Linked DNA regions of Homo sapiens: region 1 is linked to region 2. The links come from fine-mapping of genetic effects on gene expression. A gene starts in region 2. The other region holds a variant in brackets. All regions are shown on one strand. Distances are between the middles of the regions.

The links. PIP is the estimated chance that this variant, and not a neighbour inherited with it, causes the effect.
Region 1: its variant is the best candidate, but not a certain one, in a credible set for the expression of MYBPC2 in prefrontal cortex (CommonMind, PIP 0.72).

Annotation. Positions count from the first base shown.
Region 1 is chr19:50,491,868-50,497,225 of GRCh38, reverse strand. No RefSeq gene overlaps it. Among named protein-coding and RNA genes, the nearest start is that of MYREM, 5.7 kb to the right of the region's middle. RefSeq lists enhancers at 4,941-5,020, 5,061-5,120. The variant TG/G (reference allele first, on the strand shown) is at 3,010.
Region 2 is chr19:50,430,145-50,435,502 of GRCh38, reverse strand. It overlaps MYBPC2 (myosin binding protein C2), which reads right to left and starts at 2,611. Exons shown (of 28, transcript NM_004533.4): 1 at 2,531-2,611; 2 at 253-342. The coding sequence starts at 2,549. SPIB (Spi-B transcription factor) reads right to left here. Exons shown (of 6, transcript NM_003121.5): 6 at 4,189-5,358. RefSeq lists enhancers at 732-1,232, 2,047-2,805 and silencers at 3,155-3,374, 3,405-3,494.

The sequences.
Region 1 (5,358 bases), 62 kb before region 2:
GCTCGGCCCCCCAGCCCTGATCCTGGGTATAGGGGGTGGGAATTCTGGAGCTGGGGGTGGGGGCTCCTCCCTCCCAGAGACAGAGATGGATGCAGAGAGAGAACCAGAGACAGGCACGGAAAGAGACAGAGAGAGACAGAGCGAGACAGAGACAAGATGGGGGCCGTAAGCTCAGAAATGAGAGAGACAGCAGGTCACAGAGACACAGCACGTGAGAGACAGGGAGACACAGAGAGACTCAGAGACAGACAGACCAGACAGCGCCCCCACTCCAATACACACAAACAGACACAGGGGACAAGAGCCGGTCAGGGCTGGACAGCCTCCCCTCCCCCTCCAGGCCAGGCCAGGCCAGGCGGTGCCAGGCCCAGGACAATGGGCCCTTGTCAGGGCTCCGGAGGAGCCAGCCAGCTGGGGAGGCCTGTGGGCTGGGCCACGGAGGAGGGTCGGCCACAGCGGCTGCTGGGTTGGGGAAGGTGCACCTCCTGCGGGCCTGGCCCACGGCCTCCACCCTCAGACTCTCCTTCTCCCCTGGCCTCCCTTCCTGGGGTCTCCACCTACTCCCAGCCTGCTTTCTCTGCTCTGCCTGGGGAAGGGGACAGGCATTTATGGAGTACCTGCTGTATGCACCCAAAATGCCTCCTCGCCTCTCCTCACACACTCCGTCTCCCGCCACGGGTGTGCCGTCCTCGGGTGTGCCCGCCTCGGGTGTGCCCGCCTCGGGTGTGCCGTCCTCGGCGCCCTCTACTTGTTCCTCCTGTGCCTCTGGCTCCTTCCATGGAAGAAACGGGCAATTATTAAGCACCTGATGCTTGGCAGGCAATTCCCCTAACCGCGTCTGCACTTTCCATCCTTCTTGCTTTCCTGTCCCTTCTGCCCCAGTTCCTTTCTCTTTCTGATTTGCTTGGTCTCTCCTGGGAAGGAAACGGGCATCTACTGAGCATCTGCTATGCGCCGAGGAGTTGAGGAACATGGCTCCTCTCTCGCTACCTTCTTTCCTCCCCCCACCCCCATTCCTTTCTTTCTTTTTTTCTTTCTAGGACAGGGTCTCACTCCGTCGCTCAGGTTGGAGCGCACACAATCGCAGCTCACTGCAGCCTCGACTTCCTGGGCTCAAGCAGTCCTCCCACCCCAGCCTCCCAAGTAGCTGGAACTCCACACACCACCATTCCTGGCTAATTTTTGTATTATTATTATTATTTGAGATGGAGTTTTGCTCTTGCCGCCCAGGCTGGAGTGCAATGGCGTGATCTCAGCTCATTGCAACCTCCACCTCCTGGGTTCAAGCGATTCTCCTGCCTCAGCCTCCCGAGTAGCTGGGATTACAGGCACCCGCCACCACGCCTGGATAATTTTTAAGTATTTTTAGTAGAGACGGGGTTTCACCATGTTGGTCAGGCTGGTCTTCAACTCCTGACCTCAGGTGATCCACCCACCTTGGCTCCCAAAGTGCTGGAATTACAGGAATGAGCCACCGCACCCAGCCTAATTTTTGTATTTTTTGTAGAGACAGGGTCTCTCTACGTTGGCCAGGCTGGTCTCGAACTCTTGGGCTCAAGCGATCCTCCCACCTCTGCCTCTCAAAGTGCTAGGATTACAGACATGAGCCACGGCGCCTGGCCCCTTTCTTTCCTCTCTATTGGTGTCCTCTCCTTTCTGACTTTCTGCTCTCTCCTGGCAGAGGGAGTGGACACATTTTGAGCACTTACTGTGTACTAAACACCTTACATACCTCTCTCCTCACTCTCTTCCTCCCCGGTCCCTCTTCTGTCCTTTCCTTGTGTTTCTGAGCTCTCTGCCCTCTTCCAAGGCAAGGACTACATTTATTGAGCACTTCTGGTATGCAAGCAATTATGTCCTTTCTCTCCTCTCCTCTTGCCCTTCAGTCTCCACTGACTCCACCAGTCTCTGCTTCTTTCTGCTCTGTGCCAGGGAAGAAAATGGGCATTTATTGAGTACCTATTGTGTGCCAGACAGTTTTCTTATTCTCCCCTAACCCTTCACTTCGCCTTCTTCCCTTATCTCTAACTTCTTTCTGTCCCATCGGCTCTTTCTCGGGGACAAAGACAAGCAATTATGGGGCACCTACTGTATGCCAGGCAATTAACATCCCTCCTCATCTCCTACCTCTTTCTCGCTGCCCCTCTTGCTCTGCCAGCTTATCCCCTTGCTGTTCTCTGGGTCCTTTTCTGGGGAAGGGTACAGGTGTTTATTGAGTGCCTCCTGTGTGCCCCATGGTTTACCTGCAATGCCCCCTCCCTGCGTATCCTCTCCTCTGCCACACTCCTCTCACTGATCCCTCCTCCCTCTGCTCCTCCACCCCCACGGAGGCCTCCTGGGCCAACCTTTTCCTCTCATTCCTGTCTGTGCCTTCATTTCTGTCTTGTTCTCTTGCTCCTCCAAGGACGACAATGTGCATTTATTGAGTGCCTCCTGTGTGCCCACCACCTCACCAGTGTACTTGTTCTCATTTCCTCTCTTCTCCCTGCCTCCTTCTCTCCACCAGCTTCTCCCCCTCCTCTCTGCCCTGCCAGCTCTTTCCTGAGGGAGGAAATAGGCATGTATTGAGTGCCTACTGTATGCTGCCGCTTCATCTACACTGTCTGCTTGCCTCACAGGCTCTGTTCTCCCTTCTCTCCTTTTCTCCTTCTCTCCGCTTGCTCCCTTCCTCCTGGCTGCTTTCTCTGTGCTTGCTGCCAGGGAGGAGAATGGGCATTTATTAGGCACCCACTGTGTATTAGTCACTTTACATATATTGTCTCCTTCCCACACAACAGTCTCTTCTATTCTCTCTGCTGGAGTTTCCTCCTCCTCCTCCTCCTCCTCCTCTCTTCCTCCTCTTCTCCTTCCTCCTCCTCTTCCTCCTTCTCTTCCTCCTCTTCCTCCTCTCCTCACTCCTCCTTTACTTTCTCCTGTCTCTTGGGGAAAAGAAATAACACTTAACAAACACCTACTGGTCTGCTTCACACTTTCCACCCGTGCCTCTCTCTCTTTTTTTTTTTTTTTTTT[TG/G]AGATGGAGTCTTGCTCTGTCGCCCAGGCTGGAGTGCAGGGGGGCAATCTGAGCTCACTGCAACCTCTGCCTCCCGGGTTCAAGCGATTCTCCTGTCTCAGCCTCCTGAGTAGCTGGGATTACAGGCACCCACCAACATGCTCGGCTAATTTTTTGTATTTTAGTAGAGACGGGGTTTCACCGTGTTGCCCAAGCTGGTCTCGAACTCCTGAGCTCAGGCAATCCACCTGCCTAGGCCTCCCAAAGTGCTGGGATTACAGGCGTGAGCCACCGTGCCTGGCTCTATGTCCCTCTCTTTAGGCTGCCTCTCCTTCTGCTTTTGCTCTGCGGGACTTTCTTCTTCTCCCTTTTCATGTGGTCCTGAAGGGCCTGGGCAGTTATTGAGCACCGACTGTGTGCCAGGCTTTTTATAGATACAGCCTCCCCTTCTCACCCTCGATTCCCCCTTTCTCTTCCTCTCTCTGCCTTCCTACTCTCTGTGCTCTCCCCTAGGAAAGGGGAAGGGCACCAATTGAGCGCCAACTGTGTACCAAGGCGACTCTCTTTAGCCCCTTCCTTTCCCCTCAGCCGCCACAGCCCTAGAAGGGGTGGCCAGCTACACCGTGCGGGGCTGCAGGAAAGAGGAGGAGGAAGGAGGATGTGGGCTGCAGCCTGATTTCTCCCTTGGAAAAATATGTGGACGACAATGGCTACTCCCTCCCAGGTCAGGGTGGGGTGGGGGAGGCTGAAGGAGGCCTGGAGGGACTCTAGGAAGGAACACTCTAGAATCTGAGCCTGAGAGGCAGCCCGTGCCCATGGAGGGGACGCTTCTGCTGCCAGTCACCACACTGGATTCAAGCCTGAGCCTCCTTCCTCCACCTCCCTCTCCCCTCCGCAGGCCTTCCTGCCCTGCAGACACTTGGCGGGTGGTCCCTGGACTCCTCACCACCTGAGGGAGCAGATGAGGAAACTGAGGCTCGGGCGGGAAAGAGGATTTGCCCCTCCCCATTCTCCTTCTACCTCTCCTCTGTGACCCCCTTCCTCTGTCTCTCTCGCCCTCTCCTCTCTCCCATTCTCTGAATCTCTCCCCCAACCCCTGCTCCCACTCTGTTCCTGTCTCTGCATGCCCCCAAATTCCCTTTTTTTTTTTTTTTTTTTTTTTTTGAGATGGGGACTCGCTCTGTCGCCCAGGCTGGAGTGCAATGGAGCGATCTCAGCTCACCGCAACCTCCTCCTCCCTCTTACTCCACCTCCTCCTCTTTCCTCCTTCCTCATCTTTCCTTCTCCTTCTTCCTCCTTCCTCTTACTCCCTCCTCCTTCCTCCTCCTTTCCCTCTTTCCTCTTCCTCCTCCCTCCTCCTCCTCACCCCTCCTCCCCCTTTCCTCCTCCTCTCCCTCTTTCCTCTTCTTCCTCCCTCCTCCTCCTTCCTCTTTCCTCCTCCTCTTTCCTCCTCCTCCTCACCCCTCCTCCCCCTTTCCTCCTCCTCCCCCTTCCTCCTCTTTCCTCTTCCTCCTTCTTCCTTCTCCTCCTCCTCTTTCCTCTCCCCCCTCCTCCTCCCCCTATCCATAACACACACACACACAGGCTGTCCCTGTCCCTGTGTGTCCTCTCTTCGGCTGGATCCTCAGTGTTTCCTCCTCTCTAGGTCTTGCACACACTGCTCCTCCCTTGGGCGATATTCCAGTCCTCCACACGCTTCCACCCAGCCCCACCTTTTCCTGATTGTCCACCTTGTGGCTCTCAGCCTTTCTGGAATCTTCTCCCTTGTCCTCCAGACTGCCACCCCCCACTGTCTTCTGCCCTCTCCTTCCCCTGCGCTAGGTCCTCCTCCTCATCCCCGCCCTGTCATTTCCTCATCGTCTGTACCCAACCCCCAGAGGAGGCGCTGATGGGGCCCCAGTCTCACTGTGCCCGTCCACAGCAACCGACTGTGTCAGAAGGAGACAAGGGGGCCGGGGACAAGGGGCAGCACTGTGGTTAGGGCCTGTGCCCTTGGTCTCCCTCCCTCCTCTGCCTCCTTTGCCTCCAGTTTCTGTCCCTTGGATTTGCCTCTCCTCTTTCCTCTCACTCCTGCCTCCCCTTCCTCTCCCTGCACCTTCAGTGAGTTCCACCTGGCTTCCCCTCCACACGCTCCTGGTGGCTTCTCTTTGGCGCTTCTCTCTCTCTCTCTCTCTCTCTCTCTCTCTCTCTCTCTCTCCCTGTCTCTCCCATCTCTCGCTGTCTCTGTCTCATTTTCTCAGTCCGTCTCTGTCTCTCTCGCTCTGTCTCTCTCACTCTCTTGCCATCATTGTCTCTGTTTCTCTCGCTGTCTCTTTCTTTCTCACTCTCTCGCCATCATTTTGTCTGTTTCTCTCACTGTCTCTCTCTGT
Region 2 (5,358 bases):
TAGAGAGACCGGGGCCGGACCTGGTGATCAATCAGCCAGCTGACCGGAGCCGATGCCAGCCGAGGGGCTGGGCTCTGCCTGCGGGTGCCAGGGAGCCCCGGGAGGGCTGGGAGCACGGGAGGCGTGGGTCAGCCCTGGGGCTGTGCGGGGACAGATTCAAGGATAGAGGCTGGGGAAAGGCCTGGAGAGGCGTAGCGAGGAGGATGGAGATGAGAAGCCAGGTCGGTTGAGCCCGAGGGAGCACCTCCTCACCTTTGGGGGCCTCTGCAGGAGCCTCCTTAGGGGGAGCCTCCTTGGGGGCTCCTTTGGGGGCATCTTTGCCTTTGGGGGCCTTTTTGGCCGCTGTAAGGTAGGGGACAGTCATAGTTGAGCATGCGGTCTGCACACCCATGCCCCTCCCTCAGACGCAGGAGTCCAGACCCCCCAGCCCCTCCTCCCTCAGACCCAGGAGTCCAGGCCCCCAGCCCCTCCTCCCTCAGACCCAGGAGTCCAGGCCCCCAGCCCCTCCTCCCTCAGACCCAAGAGTCCAGGCCCCCACCCTAGGTATAAATTTATCTCAGATCTGAGAGTCTGTGGGATCGGGTTTCCCTTACCCCCAGCAGGCCCTGCCCCATCCGCCCAGGCCACCACGCCCTGACCTTTTGGGTCCGAGGGTATAATTAGCTCTCCCTCTGGGCTGGAAACTGGACACCTGGTGCTGACCGCAGCATCCTTCCCCTGCCCTGCCTGCTGTTCCTTGCCGGCTGGGTCTGCAGCTACAGTAGGGGCTGGACCCACCCCACAGCCTGCTTGGCCTGATGCCAGCGGACCAGACATCCCAGGAGGGGGTCCGCCCAGCGGTGCATGATTCCTGCGGTGAGTTCCTCATAGAGAGAAAGCCTCATCTCCACAGAAAGTGTTCCCCATTCAAAGAAGGTCCCCAAACCCCGCAAAAAGGACCCCATTCCCTGCATGAAGAAGCCCCGCTAATTCCTACACGGGGAAGCCTCAGTGCCCACAGAAATGAGGCTCCCCCATCCTTAATACAGAGACTTCCCCTGTGACTCCATGCAGATGGGAACCACTAATCTTTATACCCACAATCACCCCATATCCTACAGAGAAGGTCCCTTGGAATCTATTTTTTGTTTTTGTTTCTGTTTTTTCCCAGCAGGGTCTCGCTCCGTCTCCCAGGCTGGAGTGCAGTGGCAAGATTTGGGCTCACTGCAACCTCCGTCTCCTGGGCTCAAGTGATCCTCTCACCTCAGACTCCTGAGTAGCTGGGACTACAGGCACACCCCCACAAGCCCAGCTAATTTAGTATTTTTTGTAGTGACGGGGTTTTGCCATGTTGGCCAGGCTGGCCTTGAACTGCTGGGCTCAGGTGATCCACCCACCTTGGCCTCCCAAGGTGCTGGGACTACAGGTATGAGCCACCGCACTGGGCCATTTTTGTTGTTGCTGTTGCTTGTTTTTTAGAGACGGGGTCTCACTCTGTCACCCAGGCTGGAGTGCAGTGACGTGATCACAGCTCACTGCAGCCTCAACTGCCTCCTAAGTATCTGGGACTACAGGCATGCACCACCACACCTGGCTGATTTTTAATTTTTTGTAGAGACAAGGTCTCGCCATGTTGCCCAGGCTGGTCTTGAACTCCTGGCCTCAAGCAATCCTCCTGCCTCGGTATCCCAGAGTGCTGGGATGACAGGCGTGAGCCCCTGCACCTGGCTCCCTCTGAGTCTTCACTCAGAGAAGTGGCCCAGACCCTGCCCAGAGGATGCCATCCCCGGATGTGGAGAATCCAGTCACATGCAAAGACCTCCCAGTCTGGCCGGGCTCGGCGGCTCATGCCTGTCATCCCAGCACTTTGGGAGGCTGAGGCGGGTGGATCACCTGAGGTTGGGGGTTTGAGACCAGCCTGGTCAACATGGCGAAACCCGTCTCTATTAAAAATACAAAAATAGCCAGGCATGGTGGCGCAGGCCTGTAATCCCAGCTACCCCAGGCAGGAGAATTGTTTGAACTCAGGAGGCGGATGTTGTAGTGAGCCGAGATCGCACCAATGCAGTCCAGCCCCGGGGGCAGAGCGAGACTCCATCTCAAAAAAAAAACCAAAAACCAAAAAACAAAAACAAACAAAAAAACCCAGTCTACACACACAGACCCCCATCCCCATCAAGCAAAAGGAACCCAATTTACAACCAGAGAATCCCATCTCCACCAGAGATGCCCCCCCAATCACTTATAGAAAAAGAAACACCCTCCCTGCTGAGTGAAGGGGATCCCTCACCCCACACAGATATGAGACCCACCCCATCTCATACAAGGAAGGAAACTCCTGTCACAAAGGGAAGGGACCCTCTTCCCCATGCAGAGTCGAGACCCTCACCCTAAACTGATGCGGGAACCCCCATCCCGCACAGCAAAGGGAGCCTCCTCCTCACACAGCGAAGGTTCCTCCTTCTCCCAACCCTACAAACAGAGGGGTCCCAAATCCCCATCCAGAAAAGAAGAGCCCCATCCCCACACAGGGAGGGGGTCCTGGCGCCACCTGGTTTTGCCTCAGGCATGTCGGGGGACCTCCTCCTGCTCCTCTGACCGCAGCCGCGTCCCGCTAGGCCCTAGGGAGGACAGGTGGGCCCCTAAGGGGAGCCTTTTAATGAGTCCTGAGACTCCCAGAAGGCTCCGGGAGACATCAGACCACAGGGCCGCCCCACATTCCGCCCGCATGTTCTAAAGGGCGAGAAATAACAGCTGGACCTAGGGAGATGGCTGAGAGCCAGGTCCCCAGGGAGGAGGGGCTGGGGCTCGGACACCTGGGTCTGAGGGAGGAGGGGGCTGGGGCTCGGACTCCAGAATCTCAGGGAGGAGGGGACTGGGTGCTTGGACCCCTGAGTCTGGGAGCAGAAGCAACTGGGGTCCCAGATTCTTGGGTTCCCTAGAAAGGACGAGCGCCTGGACGCCTGGGTCCCGGGAGAAGGAAGAGGAAGAGACTGAGGGTCTCAAGGGGGTAAGGGCTGCGGGCCAGAGCTCTGGCATGAAGCAGGGAGGGGAGGGACAGGGTCTAGGAAGCCATTCTTAGCATCTGCAAGTCAGGAGTTTTCGGGAAACCGGAGCCGGGAGGGAGGGTCCGGTTTCCTAGCGTAGGCAGGACGGCGGCGGGGGGAGGAGGTCCCTGCGCCTCCGGGGAGGGCGCCGCGGCTCTGGGACTCCGGAGTTTCGCGCCCCGGGCGTGGGCAAACCCAAAGAGCTGGGGCCCCGGCCATCTGGGACCCCGGACTGGCCGCCGCCCCTCCTGGGACCGCTCCCCGCGACTCTTCCCGGAGCGGGCACGGCAGGCACCGGACGCGGGTAGGGGGTGGGCGTCCCCGGTGGGGGCGGGTGGGAGGCTGGGAAGGCCCTGGAGGGCTGCCCGGACGTTGGCGCCCTTCCCGGCAGGGGGACCTGTGACTTTCTGAATGGGGTGGCTCTGGACGCGGCGGGGAGCCGAGGGGGCGGGGCCTGGGGAGGGGCGGGGCTTGGGGACACCAGGTGTTGTGGGGAGGAAGGAGGGAAAGGGTGTTGGGGACTTAGGGTTAAGGCTGGGGGACTGCCTGGCTAGTAACGCAGCGTGAGGGACCCGGTGTGAGGAAAACAAGTCCCTCCGCTTTTTTTTCCTGTTCATCTTCCCCCTCCTCCTTTTCCAAAACCCCCTACGAGCCGGAAATTTCTCCGCCTCCGGGGAGCGTCCAGCCAATCCGGCGTCAGTTCCATGTGATGTCACGGGTTGCCAGGCAGACTGCCACTGCGCTCCCGCGAGCCCCGCTAAGTTGGGGAGGGGCCCAGGCCTGCAGTGCCGCGGCCACCTGAAGCCTCGCGTCCCTCGCTGCCAGCCCGAGGGCTCAATTCAGAGGGAAGGGGACAGACACCCAGACGGAAGGGGAAGCGGGGAGGAGGTGGAGAACTTCAGTTGGCAGGAATAGAGGAAGACATAAACGGAACCCTCTGTGCCTGCGCGTCAAGCCTCTTATTTCTCGGCATTAAGGTTCAGATAGGTTTTGCTGTATGGTGTCTTTGTGATTTGTTTGTTTGTTTTTGAGACAGGGTCTCGCCGTGTCTGGAGTGCAGGGGCACGATCACGGCTCACTGCAGCCTCAACTTCCTGTGCTCAAGTGACCCTCCCACCTCAGTAGTTCGGAGTAGCTGGAATTACAGGCATACGCCACCACACCCCGCTAATTTTTTATTTTTTTTGTAGACGGGTGGGAAGGGGATCTCACTATCTTGCCCAGGCTGGTTTCAAACTCCTGTACTCAAGCGATCCTCCTGCCTTGGCCCCCCAAAGTGTTGGGATTACAGAGCCACCGCGCCAGCATATAATTCTCTCTTTGAACTCCTCTCATCATCACCCGTGATGTCACGGTGTCTCTGAGAGCCAGCGGCCTCAGTGGAGGGGCAGGATTGCAGTCCCTGACAAAAGGTCCCAGGAGGTTTGTCTACGTCGATGCATCTTATTTTATTCCACATTTAGGGTGACAATGATAGCTTTTGTAAAAAGTACCTTCCCCGTTGCAGGGGGCCCTGGGGAGGACGTTTTACCTGCCCTTCCTCCCTCCCCCTTCCCACTCATTCTCTTAAGGGCAGGTCCCAGCCTGGGCTCTGCCATCAGCTGCTGTGTGCCTCCACATGGACTTCTCGTGTCTCTAGGTCATTGGCATTCCTTCCTCCTCCTCCTCCTGGGAGTGGGGTGGATTTCAGGCGGTGTCAAAGGCTCAACGGGGCTGCAACAGTTTTTTTTTTTTGAGACGGAGTTTCGCTCTTGTCGCCCAGGCTGGTGTGCAGTGGTGTGATCTCAGCTCACTACAACCTCCGCCTCCCAGGTTCAAGCGATTCTCCTGCCTCAGCCTCCCAAGTAGCTGGGAGTACAGGCACATGCCACCACGCCCAGCTAATTTTGTATTTTTAGTAGAGAAGGGGCTTCACTATGTTGGTCAGGCTGGTCTTGAACTCCTACCTCAGGTGATCCACCTGCATCGGCCTCCCAAAGTGCTGGGATTACAGGCGTGAGCCACCGCACTGGGCTGGAAAGTCTTTTTGAGATCTTCCTCCTCCTTCTCTCCCTTTTTCACAGAAGGGACAAACTAAGGTTGGGAAGCAGCAAGTCATGCACCCTAGATCCACCTGCCCACCCAGGCTCAAGGACCTCTGGCCTCTTGGCCCGCAGCCTTTGACTCCCTGGGGGTCCCAACCAGGGCTCCATAGTCCACCCAGGCTTCAGTTCCAGCTGGGTTTATACAGTGGTCTAAAGCCAACAGGCTTGAGAAGCTGCTAGGGTGAGATAGCCAGGGATGGCAGCGACTGGGGCAGATTGGAGAACAAATGCCTCATTAGGAAAGGCTA